2 separate regions of the Homo sapiens genome follow, and region 2 is linked to region 1. The links come from fine-mapping of genetic effects on gene expression. Tissue or cell type: blood mononuclear cells. Region 1 holds a variant in brackets; the other region holds the start of a gene. All regions are shown on one strand. Distances are between the middles of the regions.

What was found. PIP is the estimated chance that this variant, and not a neighbour inherited with it, causes the effect.
Region 2: it holds the start of MARCHF10, and the variant in region 1 is fine-mapped to the expression of MARCHF10 in blood mononuclear cells (TOPMed, PIP above 0.99). The same link has a PIP of 0.9 or more in T cells and whole blood.

The regions. Positions count from the first base shown.
Region 1 is chr17:62,723,641-62,726,322 of GRCh38, forward strand. MARCHF10 (membrane associated ring-CH-type finger 10) reads right to left here. Exons shown (of 11, transcript NM_152598.4): 7 at 1,298-1,464. All of the region lies in intron 2 of MARCHF10-AS1 (MARCHF10 antisense RNA 1), which reads left to right. Among named protein-coding and RNA genes, the nearest start is that of MARCHF10-AS1, 19 kb to the left of the region's middle. RefSeq lists an enhancer at 1,289-1,368. The variant C/A (reference allele first, on the strand shown) is at 1,482.
Region 2 is chr17:62,807,173-62,809,854 of GRCh38, forward strand. MARCHF10 (membrane associated ring-CH-type finger 10) reads right to left here and starts at 1,142. Exons shown (of 11, transcript NM_152598.4): 1 at 905-1,142. It overlaps MARCHF10-DT (MARCHF10 divergent transcript), which reads left to right and starts at 1,330. Exons shown (of 2, transcript NR_135634.1): 1 at 1,330-1,779. RefSeq lists a silencer at 1,031-1,180.

The sequences.
Region 1 (2,682 bases):
TGAACACACCCATACAAGCGTTGACATTTATGAGCATAGCAGCATTTTCATGACATGTTTCACAGGTAACTTTTTCTGTGTTAGATGTTTAATTGGCCCAAATTTCTAGGAAGATAAAGGATTGCATGGCAGAGTCGTTAGCAACCAAAATCTACTCGTTTTCTTCCCTCTCTGAAGGACTGAATATTTTGCTCGTTATATGGATATGCGTTTAAGCATCTTGATCAGTGGACTTATATTTCTTATGCTAGGGAAGTTGCATAAAACGGGCTCCATGGATGACACAGTAATATGATTACCCCACGTGTTCATTCTCTGATTCCATGGTGTGCTGTCCTTGGTGAGGGGGCGTGGCAACACCTCATGGGGACAGGGTAAAGCTCTAAGTCTCCCTGCAGCCTGGATAGTGACGGCTAAGGAGAAGGATATGGAAGACGGGGAGAAATAGGATCTGGCTGTGGGGGGATATGTTTTCAGAGATGTGTGTCTGAAAGAAGCCGCAGCTATTTTCTGATCAAGTTGCTCTTTGCACTGATGTTCCATGCATTTTTTTTTTTTTTTTGCTTAAAGTTGATCTCATTCCTAAAGCCATGCTTTAAAGAAACCTTCTGTTCTCTGCCCAGAAAACTACAGCCGACCTACCGATGTGGTTGTATTTAGGTTATAACCTGCTCAGGGAGTTGAGAAGGTGCCGCACACCCAGTTATAAGATGCTAGGGAGCTGACAAAATCAGCACATGGAAATTTCTTTATCTAATATGGTTCTAGACAATCAGATCAGCACTCTTATCCCTATTGCTAAAAGGCAGCTTTGTTTAGTTTCTTAGGTGACCCCCAAATAAAAGGAAGTAGGATGTGTGTGCTGGGGGTCTCTCATGAGGGACCTTCTGAAGTATTTTGCTGGGTGTCTGCTAGCTGGGCACGGCTACTGTGTGTCTGCTGAGCTTCCACCGCTGACCCACTTCTATTTCCTTCCTCCTGAGAGGCGATCTTAGCATCTCTGCTCAGGCCTCAAGCAGAGGTAGAATTCAATAGCATTTGTTCCCAGGAGTCTTCTCTCAGATAAAAGCAAAAAACAAAAAACAAACCAAAACAAAAACAAACAAAAAACCCCCAACTCCCTCCCATAGTTTAAAGACAGCTTTTATGAGCAAGGATCTGGAGCTCAGCCACGTGTCCCTGAGTCGCTGTTCTGCGGAGGAGAGTGAGCTGATGACAAGGCTCCGGGGCCCACACCGTGGTGCCTCATGTTAATTACATGTCGTGGCACGTTCACTGCACTTCCTTCCCCACCTACCTGATGTTATTTTCACTTTCAGCCACTTTTTCAGGCACTCTTGATGAACAAACTGCAGGCTTCCCACACAGCCGCAAGGCTCCAGGAGGGGGTTGCTTGGGGAACCCCCGGCTATCTGACAGATGCGACACAAGTCTCCCTCCTCCTCGGAGTCCTCCTCCAGGAGACTAAATGTGAAAACAAG[C/A]CCTCGTGACCAGGAGGCTACACGTTTGCAGTTTCTACAAATACCAGTTCCCAGAGCATTGACAGAGAAGGAAGAGGGCTCCTGGTACTCACCCGCTGCCCCCTCTGACCCTAGTGAGATGATTTTTGATAACACAGGCACAAATTCTCTCTTTTTTTTTGAAACAGAGTCTCACTCCGTTGCCCAGGCCGGAGTGCAGTGGCACAATATTGGCCCACTGCAGCCTCAACCTCCTCAGGCTCTGGTGATCCTCCCACTTCAGCCTCCCAAGTAGCTGGATTACAGGTGCATGCCACCACACCTGGCTATTTTAAAAATTATTTTGTAGAGATGGAGTCTCACGATGTTGCCCAGACTGGTCTTGAACTCCTGGGCTGAAGCGATCCACATGCCTTGGCCTCCCAAAGTGCTGGGATTACAGGTGTGAGCCCCTGGGCCTGGCTGAGGCACAAATTCTTGTAACAGGCTTCTTTGCAATTGTCAATACGTGTGAGCTGACATGGAGGACCAGCACTGCCACCATAAATCAAGAGGTAAAGGGAAATGGCTACAGAATCATTTTCAAACTGGAGTCAAGGCCAGGAGCCCCTCTCCCTGCCAGGAAGTTGGTGGGGGTGGCATACTGGTGAGTGCATGGGATTCGTGGTCAGGGGGCCTGGGTTTGAGGCCAGCCTCTGAAACTTGTGAGTTGTGTGACTTTGGATAAGTTCCTTAATCTTCCCAAGACCCTGTTTCCTCATCTGTACAATGAGGGTCATGGTGATAACACCACTGCCACCTACTTCCTAGGGCTGTGGCCAGGCTGGCTACGTGTGACAATGAGGAACCTGTTCTGCAAACTGTAAAGTACATCTAGTGTCTGGCAAGGTGTTGTGCACAGAGTTCACTTAATAGATGTTGGTTTAGGTGGATGATGAACCAATAAACCTGGACACAATCTCCCGAATAACACCACACATGCCAACAAATGACATCAGCATTCCAGAATGTAAGCGGCTGGAATCTGATGAAGATAAGAACTAACGAAAATGTAAGTAAAGATATTTGTGTCTAATAAATGGTGAGTGAAGAATAGCTGGTCGATGTTCATGTTGGGAGGTTTTAAGAAGCCTAAGGCTATTTTCTTTTCTTTAGAGTCCTCACGGGACTGGGGGCCATCTGGTCAAGGAAAGGAAACTGGCTAGAGACTAAAATCAAAAGA
Region 2 (2,682 bases), 84 kb after region 1:
GTTTAAATCTTAGCTCTAAAAAAAACTTTGCATTTTAAAGTCTTAGCTTATAAACATGTCTTGAGTATAAGCAACAAAGTTTACGATTTGGGCCCAATTTAAGAATACTGTGACTGCAGAGAAAAAGGGGGAATTGGTTGGGAAAGGTAAGGAGATCTTTCAACTCTTCCAGCCAATTTGGCTTAAGAGTTGGGGGCGGGGTGGAGGGTGGGGAACAGACTTGTGTTTGGCGGTGACTCTTCATTTTACTGTGAAACTAGGAGAGATAGGTGGTCACATTTCGACCATCAAGCCCAGAAGAGAGGAGAAACTCAACGTGTAATTGGGAAACTCTGGGGGAGGAAACGTCACAGGTTTGACAAGCAATTCAGTGCCATCATTAATAACAATATCCAGCCAGAGAAACATAACGAGACCCCTTCTTTACAAATAATTTAAAACATTAGCCAGACATGGTGTTGGCCTGTGGTCCCAGCTACCACCGGGAGGCTGAGGCGGGAGGATCGCTTGAGCCTGGGAGGTCGAGGCTGCAGTGAGCCCTGACTGCACCGCTGCACTCCAACCTGGGAGACAGAGCGAGACTCCTTCTCAAAAATAAACAAAATCAATATCGACCATTTCGCATTCAGAAGCCCAGTGGGCCATGGTCTGTGTATACCTTTTCTGACCAGTGGCGTCTGCAGGAAAGAATGTGGGTGCCAGTGAGCAAAGGTTCACGGTCTCCCCCAAACCTGTCCCTCTGAGACAGAAAAATGCTGGGGCTGGGGTCAGCCGAGGGGAGGGGACGGCCAGGCCACCGGATGTCAGGCCCGGTTTCCCTCCAGAATCTTGTAAGTCGAAAGGGAAGGTTGTCCCCCATCCTGGGAGAACTGGAGCGGAGCGGCGGGGGCGAGGGGGCCGTTACCTGTGGGTCTGCCCTTCCTCCCCTGCCGGGGCTACAGGGGTCGAGGGGCTGGGCGGGCGGGCCGGTCCAGGGCGCAGGAGCCGCCCATTAATTGCGCGGGGACGGCCCTGAGCTCCTCTTCCTCCTCCTCTTTTTGCTTCTTCACTCCCTACACCTGCCCCTCTTCCTCCTCCTTCCCCGAGGCTGCTTTCCGCGGCGCCGGCCGGCCTTGCCTGGGGCGGAGGCGGTGGGGGCGGCTACCGGGCGTCCTCCGGTTTCCCTAGCAACCGCGCCTCCCCGCCCCCGCGCGACCAGGTGCAGCCGCCGAGAGCACGGGGCGGGGCGGGGCGGGGCTGTGGCCCCGGGGTCCCAAGCCAGTCGTGGGCGCCCGCCGGTTGCCGTGGGAACGAGGCGGGCTGCAGTCGGGGAGTCAGAGCCACGCTGGTGGGCAGAGAAGAGATGCCCAAGGAGGAGGCGGTTGGCTTTGTCTGGGTGCCCAAGCCCAGACCCAGATATCCAGGCCTCTGCTCCCTTCCCTGAAAGGGTGCTGTGCTTCATAAAAAATGAGATTAGAAAACGAGAGAGGAAAATATTTTTAATGGAATCAGGGAATGTGAAAAGCGGTACATGCGAAGAGGAAAAGATACTGCAGTCCTGGAGTTCGACCTCTGCAGAGGACATCTGGAATGCTCTGGTCCAACACGAAAAAGAAGAAATAAGCGATGAAGCCAGGCACCCAGTCAGTGGCAGAACCGACATTAGAGCCCAGGCCTCTTCGTAATCAGTCGTCTTCACCCCCTTTCCAAGGAGAGAGGTGCTTAGAGGCCTAGACCAGGCCCTACAGCTTTGGAGCCAGGGCACCAGAACCGCTACTACCCTCACCTTCTCTGTGCCAGGTTGATTTCTTTCTTTTTCTTTTCTTTTCTTTTCTTTTTTTTCTTTCTTTCTTTTTTTTTTTTTTAGACAGAGTCTTGCTCTGTAGCTCAGGCTGGACAGTGCAGTGGCACGATCTTGGCTCACTGCAACCTCTGCCTCCGGGGCTCAAGCGATTTTCATGCTTCAGCCGTCCGAGTAGCTGGGATTACAGGCATGCGCCACCACACCCGGCTAGTTTTTGTATTTTTTTTTTTTTTTTAAGTAGAGACGGGGTTTCTCCATGTTGGCCAGGCTGGTCTCGAACTCCTGACCTCAAGTGATCCGCCCGCCTGGGCCTCCGAAAGTGCTGGGATTACAGGCATGAGCCACCTTGCCCGGCTTTGCCGGGTTGATGTCTGTCTGTGGTTCTCATGGGCAAAGATGACTCCCCTATTTACTTTGCATATTTAGGCTCTCAACTTGTCAACTGATGTCAAGTTAGGGTATTTTTGATTGAGTGGAGAGTAAGGTAAAGGAAGAATAGAAATTCTTGGAACTTTCATCAGTGCCCGGAATCCCTAGGTGTCTGTGGTTTGACCGTCTTCTCAACACCTCCCCTTCCCCCCATTCAGTTGGTGCCAAGTCCTTGGCAGCGTCACATTCTTCTTTCTATTCTTATCACTCTAGTTTTGGGCTCCATGACCTAGTTTTGGGCTCCATGGATTATTCTGAGGGCCTCCTGGTCACACCCTGGGCGCCTGTCCTCCACACCCTATCTTCACCATTTCCCCCATCCTATAAGCAGCCTACATCTAATGTTGCTGGCCCCCTGCTTAAAAAGCCCTGAAAGGTTCCTCACCGCCTGTGGAATGAAGTCCAAACTCGTCACTATGACTTTCCCTGTGCCCTCCCCCACAGTTTCCTTTCTTGGTTTTTCCCCTTCA